Homo sapiens: one gene and its partners. The protein of the gene in region 1 purifies or fractionates together with the protein of each later gene. This does not show direct contact. Each region holds a gene or a part of one and is shown in the gene's direction. Other genes may lie near its edges. The genes, in order: ASIC4, PACC1, MANEAL, ALG12, ODR4, GLB1L2 and POMT2.

Region 1 (4,173 bases):
CGATCTGGCCATCTGCCATCCATCCATCCATCCATCCATCCATCCATCCATCCATCCATCCATGCATGCATCCCAGCATCCTCTCCACACCTCCTTGTGTGTCTGAGGCCTCACATAGTTGATTAGCTCTGGTGGATGGGCTGTGTTCTCCCTCTGGGCCACGAGGACCCCCCCCCAGTCCCAGGGGGTTGGGAGGGTGCTGGGGGGTTCTGCTTATATCTGCTCTCTGGAGCAGTCTGAAGCTGGTTCAGGCGGGGACCTGCAGCCAGTCCCCTCTAGGAAGCACTGGGGCTGGCCAGTAAAGGCCCTCAGTGTGGGTGTGCCTGCCTCAGGACGGCCCCTGGGCCTCCTCTCTGCAGCTGGTGGGCCACTGGACCACCCTTCTCCAACTCCCACTGTAGCTGCTACCTCTGTGTTGCAGACTCCCTGGGTGGGGGCCCTGAGGGCCCGTGCTTCTGCCCCACCCCCTGCAACCTGACACGCTATGGGAAAGAGATCTCCATGGTCAGGATCCCCAACAGGGGCTCAGCCCGGTACCTGGCGAGGAAGTACAACCGCAACGAGACCTACATACGGTATGTGTGTGTGTGTGTGGGGGGTGGCTGTGTGACTCTGTGTGTACGTGTGTGTGGGGGGTGGCTGTGTGACTCTGTGTGTACGTGTGTGTGAGTGTATGTGTGTATGTGTTTGTGTGTATGTGGGTGTGGGTGTGTATGTGTGTGGGGTGTATGTGGGTGTGTACATGCATGTGTGTGTGTGTCTGTGTGGGGGGCATGTATGTGTGTCTTGTGGGTGTGTGAGTGTGTGATGTGTGTGTGCATGCACACTTATGAGTGTATGTATCTGTGAATGGGTATGTGTGTGAGAGAATGTGTCTATGTCTGTGTGGGTCTGTGTGCGTGTGTGTGTGTGGTGGAGGCTGCCCTCAACAGGCGCTGGGCATGGTGGAGGCAGGGAGTGGGCCGCATCTCTATGATGAGTCTTCTACCGGGAATGCCCTTCATAGCTCTATTCTTCTCCTTCTTTTTTTTTTTTTTTTTTGAGACAGAGTCTTGCTCTGTCGCCCAGGCTGGAGTGCAGTGGCACAATCTTGGCTCACTGCAACCTCGACCTCCCAGGTTCAAGCGATTCTTCTCCCTCAGCCTCCCAAATAGCTGGGATTATAGGCACCCACAGCCATACCCAGCTAATTTTTGTCTTTTTAGTAGAGATGGGGTTTCACCATGTTGGCCAGGCTGGTCTTAAACTCCTGACCTCAAGTGATCTGCCGTCCTTGGTCTCCCAAAGTGCTGGGATTACAGGTGTGAGCCACCTTGCCTGGCCACAGCCCTTCTCTTCTAAGTAGCCCCACTCATTGCTCAAGTCACGTTCAGTGTCTCCACCTCCAGGGAAGTGCTTCCAGGTCCAAACACCTTTCATCTGAGTTCCCAGCACCCGTACAGATCTCTGTCATTACACATATGCCACATTTCAGAGTGCTTTGCTTATGCATCTTTCTTCCCTGCACGGAGGGAGAGGGACAGGATGAGACAGGAGAGGAACACAGTACCCTGCAGGGGGAGGCAGGAGGGACCGCCCTGAGGCTTGGGTCTGGTCCCCTCCAGCCAGTCTACACTTGTGGAGCGTGGTCTGGGTGCCAGGCTCAGTGCTGGGTTCTGTGGGGACAGATGATTATGACACAAAACTCATGCCACAATTTGTCAATGAGCCCACGTTTGATCATGTAGGACTGATTCTCAGGCCCCAGTCGGGGAGTGAAGCTGGGGAGGCGTGAGCCGGCCTCTGAGGGCCCTGGGTTTGGGGTCTGAGAGAGGAGGCAATGGGGAGGCGTCCAGTGACAGGACGTGGGGCGGTGGGGTGGTGTGGCGGGGAGCCTGAGCCATAGGCAGCTGTGTGGAGGAAGCAGAAAAGACGGCGGCTGGGGAGGAAGGTGCCGGGGACAGGCCACCGGCTGCCCAGGACACCGAGAAGGGGCATTGTGGAGTGGACTGACGGGCAACAGGGGTCACTGAAGGGTCCGCAGAGGCGTAAGGAGGAGGCAAAGGCAACACCACTGGCTGCTTTAGAGGAGGGAGGAGTGTTTCCTTCAGGTCCAGGAGTTGTGTTTTGCTCTCCCAGGCCCTTTGCTACCCCTCAAAAGATGAAGCTAACACACATCCGGGACTGCCTCCCCTCACAGCCTTGGGGAGTCCGGGGGGTAGTCACTGACTTCCCCATGTAGTGATCTCTGATCAGGATCTGCTGGATCCAGGATGCCCCTGCCAGCCTTCTCAGGAAGAGAGGCCCACACGGATACCCTGCTTCCTGTCTCCACAGGGAGAACTTCCTGGTCCTAGATGTCTTCTTTGAGGCCCTGACCTCTGAAGCCATGGAGCAGCGAGCAGCCTATGGCCTGTCAGCCCTGCTGGGTGAGACTGGTGTCCCTGCCCCCAGCTTGTGTGGGGGTGGATCGGCCCGGCCGCTCCCTCTGACACTGCTCTCCTGCTTCCCAGGAGACCTCGGGGGACAGATGGGCCTGTTCATTGGGGCCAGCATCCTCACGTTGCTGGAGATCCTCGACTACATCTATGAGGCAAGGGCCCTGGAGAAGGCAGGGTGGGAGTGGGGGCCGTGGGCAAAGCAGAAGGGGGCAGTGCGGGGTGCCTGGTGGAGCTGGCCTGGCTGGAAAGTCAGGTTCAGGGTTCTCTGCCAGGGTCCCCTGACTGGCTGGCAGGCCTGAGGGCTCAGAGTCAGGAGAAGGGGATGGGTGAGGAGGAGGAGGGTGTCCTACTGGGAGTTTGCTGTGGCAGTAAGTCCTGTGGGCAGCTGGGCATGGTAAGGCTCACGCTTCTCCTCAACCAAATTTCCTGAGCCCACTGCTGTCCCCGACCCTGAACCCCAAGGTGTCCTGGGATCGACTGAAGCGGGTATGGAGGCGTCCCAAGACCCCCCTGCGGACCTCCACTGGGGGCATCTCCACTTTGGGGCTTCAGGAGCTGAAGGAACAGGTGAGGACAAGCTCTAAATGCCTGCAGCATGCAGCCACACCTCCCCAGGACTGAATACATCCATTGTTTCTGAACCAGCCTGTGGAGGGGGCCCTGGAGCCTCTGCCCGAGGTGACAAGGAAAGGCTGGCGGTGTGAGCCCTGGGGGCACCACTTGAGCTCTCCCGGTCCCACTCTCTCTTTTCTTTCTCCTGCAGAGTCCCTGCCCGAGCCGGGGCCGAGTGGAGGGTGGGGGGGTCAGCAGTCTGCTCCCCAATCACCACCACCCCCACGGTCCCCCAGGAGGTCTCTTTGAAGATTTTGCTTGCTAGGACGGTGCTGTGACTGAAAGGACCCAGGAGTCTGGGACCCCTCCTGGGATCCCCAGCACATTCTCCTGCTCCTGGGAGAGGCCTGGGGGCGGTGCTCACTGGGAGGGCCAGGACTCAGTTCCTGCTCTCATCCTCCCCTGCCCTGATGTCAGCTGCTTTGCACAAAGGTCCTTCTTGTCCACACCCCTTATCCCCAGGCTGGTGCCCCGGGAGGGCTGGAGACCAGGCCATGGGCCCTCACGGAGAGGAAGGGAAGGAAGGAGAGGGAGGGGGAGGATAGAGCCCATCCCAGCCGGGGAGGGGGAGCCCTCTGTACATTTGTAAATATTTAGGGAAAGCCGGGTGGGGGGAGGGGATACAGATGTAGAAGGTGGGTAGGGCTACAGGGGTGGGTGATTTAGGGACAGCCAGGGTCCCAGCCCCAATGTCAGCAGGATAGGGAGAGCCCCAGGACTCAGGAGTGCTGGGCTGGTCCTACTTCCTGCCCCTCTCCAGGCCCAGCTCCCCTCTTGGCAGGGGGAGAGGATGGCCCAGCAGGCCTGGCCCAGCTCCCAGTTCCCCCTGCACCAGCCCCACCCCTAGAGTCCCTTCTATAGGGAGGGGGCAGGAGACCTTCCAGACTTCGGCTGAGCTTGGAGGGTGGGAAGGGAGCCTTCTCAGTCCTCTCTCCCTCCAGTCTGATTTTATAAAGTGCTGACGAGATTGGGAATAAAGAGGCATAAAGAATTCTCTGTGTGTATGTGTGACCAAGCACGCACTGGGGGCCGGGGTGAGGCTGGGCACATGCATGACTTGGTCCCGGGTGAAAGGAAAGGCAGGCCCCAGCAGGGGCAGGGGAGCCTGTGGTGCTCAGCCAGTCCTCCCTCCCCCACGCCT
Region 2 (4,173 bases), on another chromosome or scaffold:
CTGTATTGGCCCAGTTCCTAACAGGCCATGGACCCGTATTGGTCTGTGGCCTGGGGGTTGGGGACCCCTGTTCTACTAGAATGAAACTCCCTGAGGGCAGAGACCAGTCTGTTTTGCTCACCAGCCTAGCCTTGACCACGCCATAAAGATTTGTTGAGTGAATGAATGAAGCCCCAGCCTGACTTCAACTTCTTGGATGGATCCCATCTGTTTGTGGGAGAGGGGAACAAGACAGGAACTAATGTGGTTCTGCCTGCTCCTTACAGAAGACTGCATGGAAGGGACCGGGCACGGTGGCTCATGCCTGTAATGCCAGCACTTTGGGAGGCTGAGGCAGGTGGATCACCTGAGGTCAGGAGTTCAAGACCAGCCTGGCCAACATGGTGAAACCCTGTCTCTACTAAAAAATACAAAAATTAGCCAGGTGTGGTGGCACATGCCTGTAATCTCAGCTACTTGGGAGGCTGAGGCAGGAGAATCGCTTGAACCCAGGAGGCGGAGGTTACAGTGAGACGAGATCATGCCACTGCACTCTAGCCTGGGTGACAAGAGTGAGACTCTGCCTCAAAAAAAAAAATAAAATAAAGTAAAAAAAGACTGCCTGGAAGGAAGGAGGCTGGAAGGGCAGCTAACATTTCCTGACTGCTTCTCCTGTGCCAGGATCTGTCGTACCCCATTTGCCCCATTTAATTCTCACATCAACCCTGTGAAGTGGTTATCCCCCTTTTACAGATGAGGCCCCCAACCTCAGGGAGGTTGAGTAAAGCATGGGGAGGTCATATAGCTGGTAAACACAGACTGAGTCAAACTCTGCCCAACCCTAAACTCTCTCTACTACACCAGTGGTGTTTTCTTTTTTTTTTTTTTTTTGAGATGGAGTCTCACTCTGTCACCCAGGCTGGAGTGCAGTGGCACAGTCTCGGCTCATTGCAACCTCTGCCTCCCAGGTTCAAGTGATTCTCCTGCCTCAGCCTCCCAAGTAGCTGGGACTATAGGCGTGTGCCACCACACCCAGCTACTTTTTTATTTTTAGTAGAGATGGGGTTTCACCATGTTGGCCAGGCTGGTCTCAAACCCATGACCTCAGGTGATCCGCCCACTTCAGCCTCCCAAAGTGCTGGGATTACAGGCGTGGGCCACCGCACCTGGCCTACATCAGTGGTTTATAAAAACTATTTTAAGTGGTGGTAATCCCAACACTTTGGGAGGCCAAGATGGGAGGATCTCTTGAGGCCAGGAGTTTGAGACCAGCCTTAGCAATAAAATGAGATCCTGCCTCTACCAAACAGACAAAAACCAAAAACACTCACACAAAACAATAAGCATTCTTTTATTAAAGCCCAATATGTAAAAGATAGTAGCACGGCTAATCCTCCCTCTGACATGAGGCATTGCCTCTAAAGCCCTAAGGCTCCCGGGAGAACAACTTGAAAGACCTGTATATTAGTTTTCTATTGTTTCTATAACAAATTACCAAAAACTTAGTGGCCTAAAAAAACACAAATTTATTATCTTATAGTTCTGGAGGTCAGGAGTCCAAAATGGATCTCACTGGGCTAAAATTAAGCTGTCAGCAGGCCTGAATTCCTTTCTAGGGGCTTGAGGAGAGAACTTGGTCTTTGCCTTTTCTAGCTTCTGGAGGCCTCCTGCATTCCTTGGCTTGTGGCCCCTTCCTGCAGCTTCAAAACCAGCAGTGGCTCGTCGAGTCTTTCTCACATGACATCACTCTGATGCTGACTCTCCTGCCTCCCTTTTCTGTGTTTAAAGGGCCTTTGTGATCACATCGGGCCCACCCAGGTAACCCAGGATAATCTCCCTGCTTTAAAGTCAGCTGATTAGCAACCTTAGTCCCATTTGCTGCCCTAATTCCCCTTTTCCATGCAACTTGACATATTCACAGGTTCTAAGGATTAACACTTGGACATCTTTGGGAGCCTTTATTCTGCCTACCACACCTTGCACTACCCTCTTGCCCCCAACCAGAAGTGCATAGATGGAGGCAGGAGAAAGAAGAGGAGGGAGGCCAGACTTGGAAAGATGAGGCTTGTCTTTGTGTTTCCTTTCATAGAGAAGTGCCCAGGTAAATCAGGAGGTGGCCCTAATGTCCTTGGACCTTAGCAGCCTCTCTTTTGCCTCAGATTCCTGGGGCTGCAAAGCCTGGGGTCAATCAGAATAGGAAGCCAGGCCTCAGGCAGAGCAAATTTTGGGTAGTTCCATCAACTGGCAAGAGCATTCCCACTTGCTTTGGGGTAGCCTTCCCAGTTGCTTTGGGGGAACCAGATGAGCTGGGCTCATCTCCTTTCTAAATCACAGAAGATTCAGATCTCAGGAGTCCATTTGGCTGGGTCAGTAGTGAGTTGGCTCAAATTTGATGGACTGATACACAACTCTCAGAGCTCATTTCTTGCCTCTGACTCTTCTTTTTTTTTTGAGACAGTCTCCCTGTGTCAACTAGGCTGCAGTGCAGTGGCACGATCTTGGCTCACTGCAACCACCACCTCCTGAGTTCAAGCAGTCCTCATGCCTCAGCCTCTTGAGTAGCTGGATTATAGGCACTTGCAATCATTCCTGGCTAATTTTTGTATTTTTAGTAGAGACGAGGTTTTGCCATGTTGGCCAGGCTGGTCTTGAACTCCTAACCTCAAGTGATCCACCTGCCTCAGCTTCCCAAAGTGCTGGGATTACAGGCGTGAGCCACCATGCTTGGCCCCTTTGAGTCTTCTAATAATAATAATAAAAATAATGGTAATGGTGATAGTGGTTGCCATTTTGGGGGTGCTTTCATGTACTAGGCCTGTGTAGGGCTTTAGGGCTTTTTTTTTTTTTTTTTTTTTTTTTGTGGGGTGGGACCTTGCTTTGTGGACTGGGCTACAGTACAGTGGTGTGATCATGGCTCATTTCAGCCTCCCGAGTAGTTGAGACTACAGACATGCGCCACCATACCTGGCTAATTTTTAAATTATTTTTAGAGACAAGGTCATGCAGTGTTGCCCAGGCTGGTCTCAAACTCCTGGGCTCCAGTGATCCTCCTGCCTTGACCTCCCAAAGTGCTGGAATCACAGGTGCAAGCCATTGCTCTGAGCCTATAGGGCTTTTTATATACACTTTATCCTGTAATCTTCACAGCCACTCTGTGAGGTGAACGGTTAGTCCTAGTTTATAGATGAGGAACCCAAGGCACAGACGTTAAGGAATATGCTCAGAGCTCATGAGTGGCAGGGCTCAAATCCATACCCAGAGCTGTCTCGCAAGGTGTTCTGACTCTGGCTCAGTTGTTCCTAGATGAGAGCTTTCCTGCTCCAAATTCTCCCCTCCCTGTAGCAGATCAATTAAGGACTGCTTCACTTGTTATGCCAAGTGCTGACACCACAAAGAGGGTGAGTAAGTTCCTCCAGGAACTCAGGCATATAGAGACAGAAGGCCGGTTACCCAAGGAAGAACTTGTCCCTCCTTCTGAGCCTTCCTTGACTTCCCTGATGAGGTCCCTTTCTCCCTGTGATATGCTTTCCTTTGTAACAGTTAACACAGTTGATAGGTCACATTTATTGAGTTTAATTATTCAGTTAATTGTTATCCATCCCTTGGCACTGCCCTACAAGTTCTGTGAGGCACACAGATTTTGTCTTCTCCTCCTTTACTGTAACTCCAGTGCCTAGTGTGGAGTGTAGTATGGAAGTATGACTCCATAGAAGTATGAGTACTGTAGGTACTCAGTACCTATTTGTCCTCTGGGGGAGAGCAGTGGAGATTTAGAGCAAGAGAGCCTCTCATCTAGGAGCAACTGAGCTAACTGGAATGAATGAATGAGGGCCAAAGAAATGGTAGAGTCAGGTGCTTCAAAATTAATGAAGGGGCCTGGCGTGGTGGCTCACACCTGAAGGGGCTCACACTGTGGCTCATCCCAGCACTTTGGGAGGCCAAAGCGAGCAGATCATCTGAGGTCAGGAGTTCGAGACCAGCCTGGCCAGCGTGGTGAAACCCCATCTCTACTAAAAATACCAAAAAAACTAGCCGGGGCATGGTGGCAGATGCCTGTAATCCCAGCTACTCAGGAGGCTGAAGCAGGAGAATCACTTGAAGCCGGGAGGCGGAGGTTGCAATGAGCCGAGATTGTGCCACTGCACTCCAGACTGGGTGATAGAGCAAGATTCCATCTCAAAAAATAAAAATACA
Region 3 (3,066 bases), on another chromosome or scaffold:
GTGAAGGAAGAAAAATGATAGAGAAAGAAGAAAAGCCCCACTCCCCTATTCCTGAAGAGAATTCCACCACTGACATGTCTAACAGATCACAGCAGTTTTCCACTGACACAGCTTCAGCATACTTATTCCACTGTTTCAGGCAGCTAGCACCAACCACTTGGAGCTGGCACAAGGTTGAAACCTATTAGCCACCCTGTAACAGCCCACCAAAATGATTCCCACATGCCCTGCTGCGGGAGATGGGCAAACTGCTCACCCCTGTTTTGGCCTTCAAGGGCAGCAGCTGCCTTTATCTCTACTGTGCCCACCACTGCCAGGCCCTCTTCTGAACTCAGCCTCTCCTCCAGGCCATGGTTAGATCCTGAGCCTGATATGTTGTGGCCCCTAGATAGACACTCACCTGACCATTACTCCTCTGTTTGTGGCAGGTGGCCTTCCACATCCAACCCTACAAGGGCCGGGATGACATCACTGTACATGACAACATCAAGTACATCATTGACACGTAAGGCTGCTCTGGGGGCCGGGATTTTGGTGGGGATCAAAATGGAGGTAGGGATAGAAGGTTTGGAGGGGCAGGTCAAGAGACACAGGGCATAATGCCTGTGTTTCCCAGCAGCTGTTTTATAGTAAGAGAGTACTGGGCCTAAAGTCAGGCAGCCTGGGTTTCAATTCCTGTCCTGTGGCTTCTAATCTGTGATGAGGCAAGCCTCTTAACCTTTGAGTCTTGTGAGAATCACACGAATTAATATATGTGAAAGTAGCTTCTACAATGTAGGCACCTCATTTATTCATTCAGAAAGTATTGAATGAAGGCCAGGCATGGTGTAATCCCAGCACTTTGGGAGGTCGAGGCAGGCGGATCACTTGAGGTCAGGAGTTCGAGACCAGCCTGACTAACGTGGTGAAACCCCGTCTCTACTAAAAATAAAAAAATTAGCCAGGCGTGGTGGCGCACACCTGTAATCCCAGCTATTCAGGAGGCTGAGGCAGGAAAATCGCTTGAATCTGGGAGGCGGAGGTTGCAGTGAGCCGAGATTGCACCGCTGCACTCCAGCCTGGGTGACAGAGCGAGATTCCATCTCAAAAATAAATAAATAAATATTGAATGAGGCTGCGTGCAATGGCTCATGCCTGTAATGCCAGTGCTTTTTTTTTTTTTTTTCTTTTTTTGAGACAGAGTCTCACTCTGTTGCCCAGGCTGGTGTGCAGTGGCACAATCTTGGCTCACTGCAACCTCTGCCTCCTGGGTTCAAGCGATTCTCCTGCCTCAGCCTCCTGAGTAGCTGGGATTACAGGTGCCCACCACCACACCCAGCTAACTTTTGTATTTTTGTATCTTTAGCTGGGCGTGGTGATGCACAGCTATGGTCCCAGCTACTTGGGGGGCTAAGGTGAGTGGATCACTTGAGCTCAGAAGTTTGAGGTTACAGTGAACTATGATGGCACCACTGTACTCCAGCCTGGGATTTCACCATGTTGGCCAGGCTGGTCTTGAACTCCTGACTTCAGATGCTCTGCCCACTTCGACCTCCCAAAGTGTTGGGATTACAGGTGTGAACCACTGCACCCGGCCTCCCAGGGCTTTGGGAGGCAGAGGTGGGAGGATTGATTGCTTGAGGCCAGGAGTTTGAGATCAGCCTGGGCAACATAGCAAGACCCCATCTCTACTGAAAAAAAAAATTAGCTGGGCATAGCAGTGCATGCCTGTAGTAGTCCTAGCTACTTGGAAGGCAGAGGTGGGAGGATCACTTGAGCCCAGGAGTTTGAGGTTACAGTTAGCCACAATTACACCACTGCATTCCAGCTGAGAACAGAGCAAGATTCTGTCTCTTAAAAAAACAAACAAAAAAAAAGAGAGTATTGAGTGCCTACATGTGTCCAGGCACTGACTTAAGCCCAGTTGTACAGTAATGGGTAGGACTAGCGAAATTTCTGATTTCATAATGTTTACTTTCTAGTGTATGTTGCAGGTACTGTGGAGCAGACAGTAATTAAATGGGAAAAATCAAACAGTGATCTGTACAGGATTTTGTGCTAGAGTGTGCCCACGATGCTACTTAAGAATGGATAGTCAGGTCAGGTGAGTCTGAGGAGACAACAGGTGAGCTAACACCTGAATGAGCAGTCAGGGCTGGGTGTGGTGGCTCACACCTGTAATCCCAGCACTTTGGGAGGCTGAGGTGGGAGGATCACTTGAGGCCAGGAGTTTGAGACCAGCTTGGGCAACATGGGGAGACTCTATCTCTACAAATTTTTTTTTAAACATTAGCTGGGCATGGTGATGCATGCCTATTGTCCCAGCTATTTGGGGGGCTGAGGTGAGTGGATCACTTGAGCCCAGGAGTTTGAGGTTGCAGTGAGTTACGATGGCACCACTGTACTCCAGCCTGGGCGATACAGTGAGACTTAAGAATAAAAAAAAGAAAAAAGAAAAAAAAGCCCAGGCCCAGTGGCTCACACCTGTAATCCCAGCACTTTGAGAGGCTGAGGTGGGTGGATTGACTGAGGTCAGGAGTTCAAGACCAGCCTGGCCAACATGGTGAAACCCCATCTCTACTAAAAATACAAAAATTAGGCAGGTATGGTAGCGGGTGCCTGTAATTCCAGCTACTTGAGAGGCTGAGGCAGGTGAATCACTTGAACCCCAGGAGGTAGAGGTTGCAGTGAGCTGAGATCGCCCACCGCACTCCAGCTCTGAGCAACAGAGCAAGACCCTATCTCAGAAAAAAGTAGTAATAATAAGAAGAAAAAAGAAAAGAAAAAGGGTCAGCTCTGCAAAGATCCGGAGGCAGGGAGAAAATTCCAAGCAGAGGGCTGGCAGATGCAAGTCCCATAAGATGGAACAAGCTTGCATGACACATGAGAGCCGGATAGAAAGGCCAGATGGGGAGTAATAGCTGGGAAAAGAGCAGGAATGGAGTAGGCAGGGCCAGATCAAGTAGGTGGGAATAATGAATGGATTATATGGAGGCAGGATGGGAGCCTGGAGACCAGTTAGCTGGCTGTTGTTGCAATCCAGATGGAAGACGGTGGTGGCTTGGCTAAGGGTAGGGAAGTGAGGCT
Region 4 (4,173 bases), on another chromosome or scaffold:
AAAAAGTGCTTTCTTAGGAATTATGTCAAACATACACGCATAGATGGAACAGCATAACGAATCCCAACATGTGTGTCACCCGTGACCGTCTGTTTTTTGTTTTTTGGTTTTTTTTTTTTTTTTTTTTGAGACAGAGTCTCACTCTGTCGCCAGGTTGGAGTACAGTGGCATGATCTCGGCTCACTGCAACCTCCAACTCCCTGGTTCAAGTGATTCTCCTGCCTCAGCCTCCTGAGTAGCTGGGATTACAGGCACATGCCACCATGCCCAGCTAATTTTTGTATTTGTAGTAGAGACAGGGTTTCACCATGTTGGCCAGGATGGTCTCGATCTCTTTACCTCGTGATCTACCCACCTTGGCCTCCCGAAGTGCTGGGATTACAGACATGAGCCACTGCGCCCGGCCGACCATCTGTTTTTAACAGTGAAGAAAAGGGTACAGAGACCGAACGTCCTGTGGCCCTTGCTGCCTTGGTCCTGCCTGGAGGGGGCCCGACGCCCAAGTGGTATGTGTGCACCCGAGCTGTGGCCTGGGCTCTGTCTTTTAGGAGGGGCCTGAGGCCTGAGTGGTGTCTGTGCACACGAGCCGTGGTCCAGGCTGCATCTCTCAGCACAACTGTCTTCAAGCGTCTTCTCCACCTTGACCCTGCCACCTAGCCCACGGGCTCATGCGTGGACAGGTGCGTGGCCTCCTTAACCCAGCCCGCAGACCTCCCCGCTGCTGTGGTACTTCTACTCAGCCCTGCCCCGCGGCCTGGGCTGCAGCCTGCTCTTCATCCCCCTGGGCTTGGTAGACAGAAGGACGCACGCGCCGACGGTGCTGGCACTGGGCTTCATGGCACTCTACTCCCTCCTGCCACACAAGGAGCTACGCTTCATCATCTATGCCTTCCCCATGCTCAACATCACGGCTGCCAGAGGCTGCTCCTACCTGTGAGTGCTCTTTTTGTGACATGCATTTTTATAGTTTCATTGGAAACAGGTTCACTGATTTACTGTTGGGGGGATGTATGTGTGTGTTTAATTTTTGAAACAGGGTCTTGCTCTGTCGCCCAGCTGGAGTGGGGCTTACTGCACCCCTCAACTCCTAGGGGGTTAAGCCATCCTCCTGCCTCCTCCTCTGGAAGTGCTGGGATTGCAGGTGTGAGCCACCAGGGCTGTTTTTTAAGATAAACACAGGGTGTGTTGAACTAGGCGCTTATGTCAAAGGAGGGTGACCCCAGTCCTCTCTCCTCCCTGAGGGCTGCATGGGATGGGACCGGCCTGGCATTGTGCTGACAGAGGGCTTTGCTCAGGTGGTCTCTGTCTTGGGTTAATTTGGTGACTGGTCCACATATGGTGATGCACCAGCGGTCCCAGTCTCTGTCATGGGAGAGTGACACTCACATAGGTAGCAGCGGCAGAGGGCAGGGGCAGCCAGGCCTGGGAGGCTCTGAGGGCGACAGGTCAGGTAGAGGAAGGGCGTTCGTGGCCATCCTGACAGGGCCTCGGGCTTGAGGGCGTTTGTCAAGGCGGGTCATCTGGCTGGAAGAGGGGGATGGTGAGGGAGGTGCCTATGGCTGGGTGCAGAGGGCCCAGCGTGGCCCAGGCTCAAGGTCCTGTGGAGGGCAGGGGGCTTCCTGCGGGGAGGGACTGCAGGCAGCAGGTGATGGAGGTGGAGCTGGGGGCCTGGCAGGGCCTGGGGAGGGCACTGCCTGGGCTGAGGGTGGGGTGGTCTGAGCGCGGCTGCCACTCAGTGTTGCAAGCCTCAGGGAGCCAGGAGAGTCCATCACTGCCGGGCCCTGTGGGTGCTGGGGAAGGACCCGGGGCTCAGGCCCAGGAGAGTCCATCACTGCTGGCCCTGTGGGTGCTGCGGAAGAACCCAGGGCTGAGGCTGGCCAGCTCTGTGCCCGTTCAGAGTTTGCTGCCTTGATGGGAACAGGAGGCCAACTCAGGCCACGCTGGGCATTGAGGGGCGGCAGGGCTACAGGCCAGGAGGGCCGCGGCCTGGGGCATTGAGAGGTGCCCACTCTGGCTGGAGAGGAAGCCCCACAATGCGGTCCCTGATCTCAGGCAGCGGTCAGGTGCTTTCCGGTGCCACTTGTTACAGGGGAGGGGATGGTGCCCCCCAGCTCCGACTGCCCCGCACTGCCCTCGGGCCTGGGAGCTCCTCTGGCTGCCGTGACTGTTCCTCGCTGGGGGTTCCTCCGGCTGCCGTGGCCGTGCCTGGGTTGGGGGCTCCTCTGGCTGCTGTAGCCGCGCCTCAGTGGGGGCTCCTGGGAGCTCTGCCTCTGCTTTTCTGTGCCTTTGGCTCCCTCTCGTCTCAGGGGTCGGCTCAGGGCTGGAGGAGGAGCAGACCCCAGCCAGAGTCATGGAAAAGAGGGTAGGAAAGACGGGGAGAGCGGCGCGGATGGATTGTATTCGGTGACAGGCTTTTCCAGCAGGGAAGAAGATCCAGTGGGAACTGGACCCAGCTCTGTGTCTTTGAGGCCTGGTGTGCTGGGCGTGAGGGGCTGCTCCATGCAAGGGCCCCTGCTGTGCCAGTCGGCCTTATCCGGAGGAGGACAAACTTGGGGAGTCCAAATGAGGGGGTGCAGGGTAGAGCAAGGCCCCCTCCGAAGTCAGGTCCTCAGCCCGGCCACCCTGGGAGCAAGAGCAGGCCGTTTCCCACGGTGTCAGGGCCCAGGGCCTTGAGACAGTCCTGGGGGTGGAAGGTTTCTGATTGCGAGCTTTCCACAGTGACTGCCCACTCCAGGTTTGGGCGGGAACAAAGGACGAACGCCCTGGCAGTGCTGAGCTCTTTGGGGCAGGCACTTAGGAGGCTGCGGTCATCCTAGGTGGGGCCTCGAGCTCAGAAACCGCACCAGAGATTGTTCAAGGGTGCACTAGTCTGCTCTCGCACTGATGTAAAGAAACACCTGAGACTGGATAATTTATAAAGAGGAGGCTTCATTGGCTCGCGGTTCCGCAGGCTGTACGGGAAGCGTGGTACTGGTGTCTGCTCAGCTTCCAGGCTGGCCTGGGAAAACTTTCCATTATGGCGGAAGGCGAGAGGGAAGCGGGCACGCTTTTATGTGGCCAAAGCAGGACGAAGAGGGACGGGGGAGGTGTCACCCATTTTCAAACAAGCAGACCTCTCGAGAACTCACTCGGTATGAGGAGAACAGCATGGAGGGGATGGCGCTAATCCATTCCTGAGGGCTCCACCTCCATGACCCAGTCACCTCCCACCAGGCCCCACCTCCAGCATTGGGGATCACAGTTGGACATGAGATTTGGTGGGGACGCAGATCCAAACCATAGCAAAGGGCAGGGCCTGTGGAGAAGAGGGCTCCGAGGAGCCTGGTGGGTTTGGAAGAGAGTGAGTCTTGATCGGGGGTTCAGGGCGTTTAGACCAGGGTTGGCAAGCTTTTCCGTTAAGGACCAGCTAATAAAGAGCCTCATCTTCGTGGGCCACACTGTCTGTGGCAGCTGCTAACTCTGCCGTAGGATCCTGAGATTGGCATAGTCGATTGTGAGAGAACCGGCGGCACCCTGTCCCAGAGAGTTCACTCAGACCTGCTGGGAGTGGGCTTGGCCGCGCGGGTGGCACTCTGACCTACACAGTCACTTGGGATTGTTTGAAAATATATTTTTAGGCTGGGCGCAGTGGCTCATGCCTGTAATCTCAGCACTTTGGGAGGCTGAGGCGGGCAGATCACGAGGTCAGGAGTTCAAGACTAGCCTGGCCAACATAGTGAAAGCCTGTCTCTACTAAAAATACAGAAATTAGATGGGCATGGTGGCGTGCACCTGTAGTCCCAGCTACTTGGGAGGCTGAGGCAGGAGAATCACTTGAACCCAGGAGGCGGAGGTTGCAGTGAGCCGAGATCATGGCACTGCACTCCAGCCTGGGTGACACAGCGAGACTCTGTCTCAAAAATATATATATATTTTAAAATCTCATCTAAATTTTAAATTGGCATCTTGGGTAGAATTTCACAGACAATTCTTGAGGCAGTATCTTAACCACTTTTACGGGTTACTGACTCTGTTTTATTTGGTGGTGAACTCTTTGTTATGACTTGGTGAAGTTGAACAGCAGGTTATGCTCCTAGTATGTTTTGTAGGTAGATTAATTTTATTGTCATTACGTTCTGCCTATGATGTGTAACCATTCTTTTTTCAGGCTGAATAACTATAAAAAGTCTTGGC
Region 5 (4,173 bases), on another chromosome or scaffold:
AGATAAATGCCTAACTGATGGCTTAGGCAAAGTAATGTTTTTATTATGTTAAAGTTTTCACCTCCAGTTTCTATAGATAAGGATGTACAATTCAAAGCACAGGTGCACAGAGCTGGATGGTATAGGACATCGGAGAAATTCTTATGTCTTTGGCTAAGATGAAATGACACTAAAAGCCAGTTACACGGCCTCTTACCAGGGCAAGAGTACCTCCCAAGCAAGGGTCATCCTCACCAAAGGAGTGACACGATCCATGGACTTCCAAAGACAGAATTTTAAAAGTGACCATTCCTGCAGAAGCAGGGCTTTTTTTTTTTTTAACAACAACAAAAAAAATCTTTAGTATTTAACTGCAAAGTTTCATATACAAGCCCTTTAATCCAATAAATAGTCTCAGGTTTGACCTCATATAAAACAGTGGTACTTTTTCTTATGGAGAGTGTATATTTGAGAAGAATCTCACGAGTGCTTTGATTCTATTTATTGCAATTAGCGGGATTCATAAAAGGTAGGAAATGATTTTCAAGCACCGCAAGTACTATAGTGATAGCAGTTTGTATGTATGATTATATATACACATATGTATATATATGCACACATGTACATATATGTACGCATATCTTTAAAGTGTTATGATTTTGTAAGAACTTTTGGATGCGTGCATTTTTTAGTTTATTTTTTGATAGTTTATATTCTTTTAGTTACCAATAATGCCTTTTTTGGTTATTTCTGTCCTTAATTAGTGAAGAATATTTTGTCGAACTTATGATATCCATGATCCAAAGGTAAGAAATTTACTCTTTAAAGATTTTTCTGTGTCACAAAGTATTTTCAATCAAAATTCAGCTTTTATTTAGTTTTAATAATTTCCATTGCCATCACTTCCTATTGATGCCTACAAACAACTGTAGTTTTTATTTTGAAATATGATTAATTTTATTACAGATAAGGAAAACTTTTTTGTGCGTGACAGGGTCTCACTCTCTTGCCCAAGCTAGAGTGCAGTGATGCAGTCATAGCTCACTGCAGCCTCCACCTCTTGGGCTCGAGGGATCCTCCCACCTCAGCCTCTTGAGTAGCTGAGACTATAGATGTGCACCACTGCACCTGGCTAATTATTTTTGTTTTTTGTTTTTTGTTTTTTTTGATAGAGATAGGGTTTCACCATGTTAGTTATGTTTGTCTTGAACTTCTGGGCTCAAGTGATCTGCCTGTCTTCGCCTCCCAAAGTGCTGAGATTACGGGCTTGAGCCACCACGGCCAGCCAACTTTTTAAAAAATTGTTAAAATATCTTTGTTAATCTCCTCCTACCTTGTTTGTGTATTTAGTTTTATATTTGAGAGGCTGGTAGTAAAAGTGACTGAGGACTTTTGGTAGCTGCACTGCCTATTAAACAAGCTATGTGTATTCAGCAAAACCCAGATTAGCACTTTGCTAATGCATCTAAAAGGGTTGTGAAAAAGTAACTTTGCAGTGTCATTAGCAAGGATGGGACAGAAAGGAGAATGCCTGCCACCTAGGAGTTGCTCAGTGATTATTTGCTTCAGATCAGAATCTTCAGTATTGATACTGTTGAAGCTAGAGGATCAAAGGACCTTTCAGAATTCTAAACATGGAAATTTCTGATTCTTTTTCTGCCTACCATTGGGAGGAGAAGTATTGCCAAGGATGTATTGAAGAGTACTGAACTTAACACATGCTTTATTTTGTGTTTAGTTCAACCTATAGTCTTTTGATCAAGGGTTTAGCCATATATGTTAGATATGAGTTTGTATGCGTTATTTAGGTTGTATATTTAATAATGTTTTGTTGATCCATGTATTTTATCTAGACTACATCATAGTTATTTTTCTCCCTTCTCCACTGCTAGAGTTCAGCAAGACCAGCAGATTGGAAGTATCAAAGTGGATTATCATCCTCATGGCTTTCTTTAGAGTGTACAGTTCACATTAATATTCACATCCCACTTTCTGCTACTTCTGTCAGCTATACTCTGGAGAAAAATACAAAGGTACCAGGGTAAAATGAATTTTCTTCAGTGATTGCTGAGTGAACAATCTGCTTTTATTCTGCTTACATGTGTCATTCATTTTACAATCCTCAAAAATTACATTCTGCTTACAATGTTGTTATGTGAGTAACTTATTACCGCAGCCAAATTAGAAATTTTTAGAAATTTTTAGAAGTGGAACAATGTCATAATACTAGTATATTCAGTTTAATAATAACTAATAATTTAGTTGTTAGACTAAATATACTAGTACTTATTATGTGCTGATTAAGTATTATTATGTGCTTTGTCATTAAACTAAATATAACAGTATTCATTAATTAACATGTAAAATGTAATTAATGTAAGAAGCTATACTGTTTGGACTTTTAGCTTTCTCTTAGTACTTAGGTTTTTTTGTCTTCCTTTTTCCAGTTCTTTTTTGTATTTCTATACCATTCTTTTATTTTTATCTTATTTTTCTTCATTTTTCCCATTGAAGATGTCAAATAGAGCTTTTTTTTTTTATTTTTTAGACTTATTTGATGCTTTTTTCTCACTTTTTTTTTTAAGGTAGTGGGCATTAAATTTTATTTAACTGATCATGTACTTAATAACCTCCTGAGTCTGTGACATAAATGTTATTCTGGGATAAAGATCAGAAAATAACTATTATTAAATATAATAAGGTATCAAGAATGGGGGTATACTTTTTTTTAATTTGTGAAACTAGATTTAAATGCTGCAGTAATGAGATTTAGGGATTTTAATATTTCAATTTATTAGGTGGAACAAAGTAGATTATAGGAAGTTTAATTGAGATGGCATTGTATCTGAAAGATTTCCATGTTGTGTTTCTGTTAAGAATGGACTTACACGCTGGGCCAAGGAAATAGAAAATGGTGTTTATTTGATTAATGGACAAGTTAAAGATGAAGATTGTGACCTATTAGAAGGACAGGTAAGTTAAGAGAAAATCATCTTATTAAATTGTTAGTGCTTAAGGAAAAATAAAACATGACTTATTTTTAGTCCTTGCCTACAAGAAAACTGATTTCATCTACCTCTCATTTCTGATTTCTGATTTAAAGTAAAAGGCAAATGTTTTTCTTAGAAAAACAACCTCATTAAAAAGTAGGCAGAGGATATGAACAGACACTTTTCAAAAGAAGACATACATGCAGCCAAGAATCGTATGAAAAAAAACTCAGCATTACTATCGGTAGAGAAACACAAATGAAAACCACAATGAGATACCATCTCACACCAGTCAGAATCGCTGTTATTAAAAAGTCAAAAAATAACAGATGCTGGCAAGGCTGCAGAGAAAAAGGAATGCTTATAAACCGTTGGTGGGAGTATAAATAAGTTCAACCATTGTGGAAGGCAGTGTGTTGATTCCTCAAAGACCTAAAAACAGAGATACCATTTGACCCAGCAATCCTATTACTGGCTATACCCTCAAAGGAATATAAATTGTTTTATTGTAAAGACACATGCATGCATTATGTTCATTGCAGCACTATTCACAATAGCAAAGACATGGAATCAACCTAAATGCCCATCAATGACAGACTAGATAATGAAAATGTGGTACATATACACCATGGAATACTGTGCAGCCATTAAAACAGAACGAGATCATGTCCTTTGCAGGAACATGGATGGAGCTGGAGGCCTTTATCCTTAGAAAACGAATGCAGGGGCCAGGCATGGTGGCTCATGTCTGTAATCCCAGCACTTTGGGGGGCCGAGGTGGGTGGGTCACTTGAGGTCAGGAGTTTGAGACCAGCCTGGTCAACATGGTGAAACCCTGTGTCTACTAAAAATACAAAAGTTAGCTGGGCATTGGTGGCAGGTGCCTGTAATTGCAGCTACTTGGGAGGCAGGGGCCAGGCGTGGTGGCTCATGCCTGTAATCCCAGCACTTTGAGGGGCCAAGGTGGGCAGATCACTTGAGGTCAGGAGTTCAAGACCAGCCTGGTCAGCATGGTGAAACCCTGTCTCTACTAAAAATAACAAAAATTAGCCGGGTGTGGTGGCAGGTGCCTGTAAGCACAAGCTACTCGGGGTGCTGAGGCAGAAGAATGGCTTGAACCTGGGAGGTGGAGGTTGCATTGAGCCGAGATCGTGCCACTGCACTCCAGCCTTTGGCTACAGAGTAAGACTCCATTTCAAAATAA
Region 6 (4,173 bases), on another chromosome or scaffold:
TGGGTGGACACCCACCTCCGCAGCTCTGGTACCCTCAAGCCAACAACCTTGCTTCTGGCATGGGAGATTTCTGACTTGTGGGACTTTGAATCTGCTTCTCCCTTTTTAGTGATTTAAACGTGGTATGGTATGTCTCCTTCTTGGAAGGTAGGTGGCTTGTAAAGAAAACCAAGCCGCCAGTCTTGCTAGAAGAATTCTTGTAACTACTTTGGCTTTAACCCGGGTATGGCTGGTACCTTCTACTCAATGGACCGTGAGTTTGTCCCATCCCCCTGGATCAGATTTTGTTGCTGTGTATGCGGTATCCCTCTAAACATAAGGCTATCACTGACCTAGAGATACTTGACAAGCTGTCACTGAATAAGTGAGGAAGGCTCTCTCATGCAGAGCCTGAAATACTAGCGTGTTAGTCTTTACACCTCCCCCAGGTGCTCTGGGCTTCTGCAAACGTGGCAGAGTGGAGCATGGTCCCAGGAATGATCTTGGCCTCCTTGGGGCCGTCCTATGCCAAAGTCAGTATTCAGAAAGAAGATTTAAGATTTGTTGAGTGGCCCAGCCAAGGTATAAATCCAAACTGTCAGTGCAGAACCTGCACCATGAATAGCTGTGCTGTAAGGCCCTGATTTTCTGGTTCAGAAAATGCTGCAAACTGCTGTTTAAACTGAGTTGGACCTTGAAGAGGGCCCACTCTGCAGCGTCTGATTTTTCTGCTAATGGAGCCAGTACCCAGGGTGGGGGGGAGGGATCTGCATCCACAGTATCCCTCTCAGATATGGAGTTGTCCTGGGTAAAACATCCCCCTTCCCTGGAAGAGGACAGGCAAAGCTTGGCTTGATCCTGGACCAGTGTCTTCTTGCTAACACGTATGCAACATTAAAACCATCAGGGTTTGCCATATCGACTTTGGGAGCTTTATCTGCTCTATACCTGCAGGAGGCCACATGTGGCAGGAGAACTGGTGTGCAGGCGAATTTGGCCCTCACCTATGCCCCACCTCCAAAGACCTCTAAGGCAGTGGGTATGCAGACAGGGAAGAGTAGAGAGGGCAGAGATCCTGGGGCTCCCCTCCATGAAGAGCTTCCCTCTTTTTTGTCTGGCCAGCCTGCTTGTCTAACTCTCATTTTGTGGTGTCCAGGGGACTCAGCCCAAGATGGTGATGGAGTACTGGACGGGGTGGTTTGACTCGTGGGGAGGCCCTCACAATATCTTGGATTCTTCTGGTGAGTGCTTGCGGTGACTACATCCAGAATGTGTGCTACTTAAGAAGTGAGGATGAGTTTCAGTCACCTGCTAACTAATGTAAGCCATAGGGGGTGCAAGGCTGCTGGGATTATCTGTGTGCAGAAGTTGGCTTTGGATATTCCTGAGTCATTTGTCTTGACACTTGGATGAATGGGAGGGCTTTTAACATTGCTTGTTCGTGTTTTTGTAATTAGAAGGGTAATGCATGCCTATTGCAAACATCCAGAAAATACAGAAAAAGTATAGAGAAGAAATAAAATTCCCAGAGCACAGAGAAAACACTTAGCTGTTTACCACGCAGGCAGTTCTCTCTGTATCTCTGCCGACAGCTCTATACGCACACACAGATAGAGACAGATGCCATCACACTCCGCTGCATGTCACCTGCTTGTGCCAGTTAATGCACATACGGACAGCTTTCTGTATGACCAAATACAGATTTACATGACTGTTTTAAAGAATGTGAAGAGCCCCATTCTAAACCACACTTTGTGGACACAGTCTCCCGGGTTGTTTCTGGTGGTTCTGTTAAGCGCACGCCATCCCGGCGAGCATCCCGGTGAGCATCCCGGAGCCTGCGCTCTGCGCACCCGGCTTTCCCTGGGATGAGCGGCACAGGGGCTCCTCGGCACCGTGTAGATGTGCATGCTCGCCCCTCAGCCCCCGGAAAGACGGCAGCTTCAGCCGCTGCTGCTGAATGGGTGCACCCATTTCCCACAGATTCAGCAACACCGAGTATTAAAATAACTTTTAATATTTGTCTACTCAGTACATCATTGTTTAGTCTGCATTTCTTTGATTTATATTGATAAAATATATATTTATTAACCATTTGTTTTTCTCCTTTGCTATGATCTTGTTATGTCATGGTTCATTTCCTAACAAAGGTAGAATAGGAGGTGTCAGAGTTTTCTCTCTAAGGATGCATCCCATCTTTGTGCACTTGATACACCTGGTCAGGCAGACTCACATGGAGACTGTGCTGGCTGGAAGGCCCTGGCCGACCTGGGCTGCAGGTGGTCCACATGGAGCTCAGAGACTTGACCAGGATTGACAGACAACTGGAGGCTCGAGCTCTGGGGCCATGATTCTGGCCCACACTTCCTCCTCCACCCCTAATCTTCTGTGATTGGGGTTTTATGAGAGCTAGAAGGACAGAGTGACAAAGTTGGCCTTGAGGTTTTGAGGTGGGACTGGGAAAGAGGAGAGTAGTGAAGGGACCCCGGCTCATCTCAGACTTTAACTCACTCTGCACATCCCCTTTCTCCCTCCTCCGGCAGAGGTTTTGAAAACCGTGTCTGCCATTGTGGACGCCGGCTCCTCCATCAACCTCTACATGTTCCACGGAGGCACCAACTTTGGCTTCATGAATGGAGCCATGCACTTCCATGACTACAAGTCAGATGTCACCAGCTATGGCAAGTATTCATCAGCACTGCTCTCCCTGGTCTGCCCTGCATGGGCATGGCTGGGACTTGCTATGGAGAGGCCCTCAGGGTCAACTTCTGGCACCTTCGTGTCTTTGGCAATAGAGTACCTGGAGAAGGTACTTGCCTGGACAGTCATGTTACACTCCCAGAGGAGGGAAGCCTCAAGGGAGGTGGTGTGCCTGTGAGCTGGTCACTCTACAGAGAGGCCTCTTTGGCAAAGGTTGGCCTGAGGAAGTGGAAGGAGACCGCCCTAGGGGGACAGGGAGGGACGGTGGCCTCCCCTCCCTGCCCAGGCCCTTGAGGAGGTGTGATCCTGCCTCCTTTAGGTTGAGAGTCCCAGAAAGTAGAAATTACACCTGCAGCTAGAAATTTAGGGCCATGCTGTGATCATGGACAGTTTGTGTTTTTTTGAATTTGTGAGAGAGTTATCACTCTGACACCCAGGCTGGAGTGTAGTAGTGTGATCATAGCTCACTGCAGCCTCAAATACCTGGGCTCAAGTGATCCTCCTGCTTCGGCCTCCTGAGTAGCTGGGACTACAGGTGTGCACCCCCACCTCTGGCTAATTTTTAAAATTTTTTGTAGAGGTGGGGGTCTCGCTATGTTGCCCAGGCTGGTCTGGAACTCCTGGCCTCGAGCGATCCTCCTGCCTTGGCCTCCCAAAGTGCTGGGATTACAGGTGCGAGCTGCTGCACAAGCGATCCTCTTGCCTTGGCCTCCCAAAGTGCTGGGATTACAGGTGTGAGCCACTGCACAAGCGATCCTCCTGCCTTGGCCTCCCAAAGTGCTGGGATTGCAGGTGTGAGCCGCTGCACCTGGCCTTATGGACGCTTGTTGTAGTTGCCTGGTCTTTCATGTTTACAGTATTTTGACTGAATGGCTCAAAAGTGTCTTGCCTCCCCAATGGCTGAGATGAAGACCTGTGGCCCTTCCAAGCTTCTCCCTGTTCTTCGTGCTACATGTGCTGTGCTGGGGACAGGAATGACCATGACAGGGCCCGGTGTCTTGCAGACTATGATGCTGTGCTGACAGAAGCCGGCGATTACACGGCCAAGTACATGAAGCTTCGAGACTTCTTCGGCTCCATCTCAGGTACCCAGCAGACAGCAGACTCAAGTTCCAACTCAGGCCCTCGCTTCTGCTCTCAGACCCCTAAAGAGTTACTTCCTTACTGTCCCACCTCGACCCCAGTTGATCTGCGTGCAAGAATATCCTAGACAAGGACAGGGAGGTGTGTGAGGCTGTTTCCATCTTGCCGGCTTCACCTGTTACAGGTGTTAACGCTCCTTATCTCCTGTGGAGGACGGGAGAACGCCCTGGCTTTCCCCCAGGCCTGGCCTTCCTCCCTGGCCTCAGCAGGTGCTGAGAGCTAGCCTGTTGTTCCTCTTGGTGCTGGGACGCAGGAGCACATCGGGTCTGTGGATGGGAGCCGGGTGGGGAGGACGAGCAGGCAGTGACATTTGGGTCCGTTGGGGGTGACCCTGTTTTCTGTGTTGCAGGC
Region 7 (4,173 bases), on another chromosome or scaffold:
CATGATCACTCCTCTTCCTCCTTTTGCCCAGAGGACAGGGCAGTAACCAGGGTGACATTCAGTGGCTTGTTTCAATCCTACCTCTTTCCATCAGCCTCTCTAATAGTGGGACAGTGGGGGACTCTCACTACCCCATTGCCTGCCCATGGAGGCCCTCATTCTTTCTCTTACCAAAGACTATGTCTCTCCTCATCCTATGCTTGTCTCCACACTGTCAGGGGCTGTGATTTTATCTTAGCCTACTTATTAGCTAATAAGTTAGCCTGTCACTGTTTTTTGCATGCTGACAGAAGACAAAGTCTTGGGTCAGAGACAGAGGACTTTATTTCTCATGGCACAGCAAGTGGGATGTGCATCAGCATGTTGGCATCAGTTTCCTTTGCCCCTAAGTCCCACGTGGTGCTGAGGGACTGGATGAATGCTTGCACATGCAGTAGCTTGCATCACAGCTGAGTAATATTAAGCTTAGGGAATCTGCTGTTTTATGGCAAGCAATAAACAAGACAGCCCTCTGTCTCAGAGGGAGACACTAACTTCCCTCAAGGTTGTTTACTGCAAACAGCATTCTTGGCATACCTTGCAAGGCCTGGAGGAGCACAAGAGAGCCACGGAGGACTGTCTCTCCTAACACAAGCAATAAAAGCCAGGAGGAAATATGAATGTTACAACTGGTTTTACTTGGGAAACTTTTGAAGTAAAAATCTGGAGCCCAGGCTGGGTGCGGTGGTTCACACCTATAACCCCAGCACTTTGGGGGGCTGAGGCAGGTGGATCACCTGAGGTTTGGAGTTTCGAGACCAGCCTGGCCAACATGGTGAAACCCCATCTCTACTAAAAATACAAAAATTAGCCAGGTGTGGTGGCGGCCGCCTGTAGTCCTAGCTACTTGGAAGGCTGAGGCAGGAGAATCGCTTGAACCCGGGAGGTGAAAAGTGCAGTGAGCCAAGATTGTGTCCATGTACTCCAGCCTGGGCAACAAGAGTGAAACTCTGTCTCAAAAAACAAGCAAAAACAAAACAAAACAAAACAAAACAAAAAAACTGGAATCCTTTTGTTAGTATGTTCCCAAACAGATTTAAAAACTAACCACAAATGTCAGGACAGTTTAAGGAGGGCCCAGCAGGGATGGTACTTTATAATCTACAGAATTCTTTCACATGTGTTATCTGAGTTGAGCCCTAAGGCCTCCCTGGGAGGTGGGCAGGGCAGATAATATTATTGTCTTCATTTTGTAGATGAGATAAGAGGACTAGAGAGAATAAGTGATTTTGGCGGGTTGTGCCATTAATTAGTGGTGGAGCTGGGACTGGATCTCTCTTTCTGCAAATCAGTTTCATTACCCTGCTTTGAAGTTATTTCTGTCTTCGACCTCACCATGCCAATGTCCTCACTGCCTGTCAAGGTGTTTAGCAGATGCTGAAATAGACCTATTCTTTTGCCTATCTTGGACCCACCAAGTAAGATATAAAAAGAACCTTAGATTCTTAGGTAAAGCATGTTTTCCCCTTATGTAGTAGGTCAATAATGACTGCTCATGACCTGGGGATTGATGACTACTAGAAAGTAACCCTTCTTTTGAGCTACAGGGAGAAAATTACAAATAGAAAAGGCCAGGCTCTGCTGGATGACTTGGCTGCGTTCCCAAAGCCCTCATGTATGGTGTAGAAAGGTGTATGTGGTTGTATAAAAGAGGACTTTGCATTGTGTTTGAAAGCCTGTTTATTCAAATCACTTATTTACTTGCAAAATAACTTAAGCAATGAGGATAGGTTTTAGATGTGGTCTTAATTTAGTAAGAAAGCCTTCAACTTTTATATACTAGTTAGTATAAGATCAGCCAGATCACAGTTAGCAGCTTACTTGTCACAGGGTGGCTGAGCAAAATGAGACTCCTGTGACACTCATGGTTTATAGACTCAACTCTGACCAGCAGCCCAACAGCGTCGTAATGGACCTTCTAATAGCAAATGTTGTCTCAGAAGTTAGCAGACTTGGAAGAAACTTTTTTTAATTTAAATTTTTGTTTACACTAGCTACTTGAAGATAGGAAGAAAACTTTTTTTTTTTTTGAGACGGAGTCTCACTCTGTCGCCTAGGCTGGAGTGCAGTGGCGCGATCTCGGCTCACTGCAAGCTCTGCCTCCCGGGTTCACGCCTCAGCCTCCCTAGTAGCTGGGATTACAGGCACGTGCCACCATGCCTGGCTAATTTTTTGTATTTTTAGTAGAGACAGGGTTTTACCATGTTAGCCAGGATGGTCTCCATCTCCTGACTTCGTGATCCGCCTGCCTCGGCCTCCCAAAGTGCTGGGATTACAGGTGTGAGCCACCGTACCCGGCCAGAAGAAAACTCTTACTACAAACCTTTCCATATTATGAGAAAACATCTTGTCCTTTTAAAATAAATAGAAACTCAAGATACAGAGTAAGTATATGTATATTTAACTCAATTGGTAACTGGCTAGTGAATATTTGCTCGCCTTTCTCATCTATCTAAATGAAGACCAGTGGCCAGCTTGATGTCTTTCTTCCTAAAATCACTTGTGTCAAAATATTTTTTTTTTAAATCCAGACTTTTGCATTAATTGTTTGAAATGCATAGCCTTTAATTTTAACCATGCTTTATGAAGGCCATTTGGATTTTATGATAATTTTAAAATTCTTGTTTCTCTTTCTGTGTTTCCTTTAGTTGGGATGAGACTCACTTTGGAAAAATGGGAAGTTACTATATCAACCGTACATTTTTCTTTGATGTGCACCCGCCCCTGGGAAAGGTGAGCAGTGTGGTGAATAGCAGCTCTCTGGTCCCAGAGGATTGTTCCTAAGGGCTGGAGCCACATCTTGATTTTGGATTTGGGGCTTCTAGAAAGAATTTGGGACTTGTAGAAAGAATTTTCTGACATTTCAGACCAGCTACTTTCATGGAAAATCTCTGGTGTTTTTTAAGGGTCCTCTGGGCTCAGAAATGGAAAGAGGGCCCATCAGCTGAGGGAGGGATGAACAAAGTGTGGCACAGCCATATGGTGGAATAATATTTGGTCATAAAAAGGGATGAGGTTCTGATACATGCTACAACATGGATGAACCTGGAAAACATGCTAAATGGAAGAAGCCAGACACAAAAGGTTACATACCCTGTGATTCCACTTATATGAAATATCTAGAACTGACAAATCCGCAGAGACACAAAGTAGATTAGTGGTTGCCAGGATCTCAGGGCAGGGAGGATTAGGCAGTGACTGCAAATGGGTGTGGGGATTCTTTATGGGGTGATGACATGTTACAGAATTAGGTAGTGGTGATGATTGCACAATCTTGTGAATATACTTAAAACCACCCATTGCACACTTTAAAATGGTGGATGTTATGTTATGTGAATTTGTCTGAATTTTAAAAAAGAAAAAAGAAATAGGAATACATTGCATGAAGCAGAAATAGCTTACGAGGCTGATATCCATATGGGGCTGACTTCTTTCTCCCTTCCCATGCCCAGCATACACATGGTTTGATCTGTTTCTCTCACATGTTTTACCATTAGAAATTCAACCAATTAGAATTCACTTTACTCTTTTTTTGTTTGTTTGTTTTTGAGACAGAGTTTCACTCTTGCCACCCAGGCTGGACTGCAATGGTACAATCTTGGCTCACTGCAACTTCTGCTTCCCAAGTTTAAGTGATTCTCTTGCTTCAGCCTCCCAAGTAGCTGGGATTACAGGCGCCCGCCACCACGCTGGCTAATTTTTGTATTTTCAGTAGAGACGGGGTTTCACCATGTTGGCCAGGCTGGTCTTGAACTCCCAACCTCAGGTGGTCCACCCGCCTTGGCCTCCCAAAGTGTTGGGATTACAGGCAAGCCACCGCACCTGGCCCATTTTAGTCTTTTAAAAACAAAAACCTCTGAGAAGGCTCTCGGATTAGCCCTGGAATTCACTCAAGGCTTTCTTCCTAACTGGAGACTTAGATCTTGGGCACCAAGGGGACAGGAATTTTCCTGTGATTAAGTGGGGAGGGATCTTGGAGCAGGTAGTACTTGGGGGATAAAGGCAGGAGCAGGGAAGGCAGGAGGAGGCAGGGAGTGTAATCTTTTATCAAAGATCACAAAGATCACCTATGGTTGGGCTTAAGGAAGCATGAGAGCAGGGGGCCCTACAGCGTGGAGGGATGGGAAGCGAGGT

Evidence for each region.
Region 2: the proteins of ASIC4 (region 1) and PACC1 purify together in Homo sapiens (affinity purification with mass spectrometry; 2 studies listed by BioGRID and IntAct, with this or other methods). This does not show direct contact.
Region 3: the proteins of ASIC4 (region 1) and MANEAL purify together in Homo sapiens (affinity purification with mass spectrometry; 2 studies listed by BioGRID and IntAct, with this or other methods). This does not show direct contact.
Region 4: the proteins of ASIC4 (region 1) and ALG12 purify together in Homo sapiens (affinity purification with mass spectrometry; 2 studies listed by BioGRID and IntAct, with this or other methods). This does not show direct contact.
Region 5: the proteins of ASIC4 (region 1) and ODR4 purify together in Homo sapiens (co-immunoprecipitation; 2 studies listed by BioGRID and IntAct, with this or other methods). This does not show direct contact.
Region 6: the proteins of ASIC4 (region 1) and GLB1L2 purify together in Homo sapiens (affinity purification with mass spectrometry; 2 studies listed by BioGRID and IntAct, with this or other methods). This does not show direct contact.
Region 7: the proteins of ASIC4 (region 1) and POMT2 purify together in Homo sapiens (affinity purification with mass spectrometry; 2 studies listed by BioGRID and IntAct, with this or other methods). This does not show direct contact.

The regions. Positions count from the first base shown.
Region 1 is NC_000002.12:219,534,750-219,538,922, forward strand, and holds the end of ASIC4 (acid-sensing ion channel 4), read left to right. Parts: exon of another isoform or gene 1-421; coding exon 422-575; intron 576-2,316; coding exon 2,317-2,408; intron 2,409-2,492; coding exon 2,493-2,572; intron 2,573-2,882; coding exon 2,883-2,987; intron 2,988-3,183; coding exon 3,184-3,297; 3' UTR 3,298-4,023; downstream 4,024-4,173. UniProt on the Homo sapiens protein: Does not exhibit measurable stand-alone pH-gated sodium channel activity but may form pH-gated heterotrimeric sodium channels. Its activity could also depend on alternative gating mechanisms.
Region 2 is NC_000001.11:212,404,771-212,408,943, reverse strand, and holds part of PACC1 (proton-activated chloride channel), read left to right. Parts: intron 1-4,173. UniProt on the Homo sapiens protein: Chloride channel gated by pH that facilitates the entry of chloride ions into cells upon exposure to extracellular acidic pH. Involved in acidosis-induced cell death by mediating chloride influx and subsequent cell swelling.
Region 3 is NC_000001.11:37,796,316-37,799,381, forward strand, and holds part of MANEAL (glycoprotein endo-alpha-1,2-mannosidase-like protein), read left to right. Parts: intron 1-428; coding exon 429-505; intron 506-3,066.
Region 4 is NC_000022.11:49,904,481-49,908,653, reverse strand, and holds part of ALG12 (dol-P-Man:Man(7)GlcNAc(2)-PP-Dol alpha-1,6-mannosyltransferase), read left to right. Parts: intron 1-709; coding exon 710-933; intron 934-4,147; coding exon 4,148-4,173. UniProt on the Homo sapiens protein: Mannosyltransferase that operates in the biosynthetic pathway of dolichol-linked oligosaccharides, the glycan precursors employed in protein asparagine (N)-glycosylation.
Region 5 is NC_000001.11:186,388,840-186,393,012, forward strand, and holds part of ODR4 (protein odr-4 homolog), read left to right. Parts: intron 1-748; coding exon 749-785; intron 786-1,871; coding exon 1,872-2,012; intron 2,013-2,856; coding exon 2,857-2,952; intron 2,953-4,173. UniProt on the Homo sapiens protein: May play a role in the trafficking of a subset of G-protein coupled receptors.
Region 6 is NC_000011.10:134,366,122-134,370,294, forward strand, and holds part of GLB1L2 (beta-galactosidase-1-like protein 2 isoform b precursor), read left to right. Parts: intron 1-1,135; coding exon 1,136-1,220; intron 1,221-2,522; coding exon 2,523-2,660; intron 2,661-3,683; coding exon 3,684-3,764; intron 3,765-4,171; coding exon 4,172-4,173.
Region 7 is NC_000014.9:77,310,548-77,314,720, reverse strand, and holds part of POMT2 (protein O-mannosyl-transferase 2), read left to right. Parts: intron 1-2,687; coding exon 2,688-2,772; intron 2,773-4,173. UniProt on the Homo sapiens protein: Transfers mannosyl residues to the hydroxyl group of serine or threonine residues. Coexpression of both POMT1 and POMT2 is necessary for enzyme activity, expression of either POMT1 or POMT2 alone is insufficient.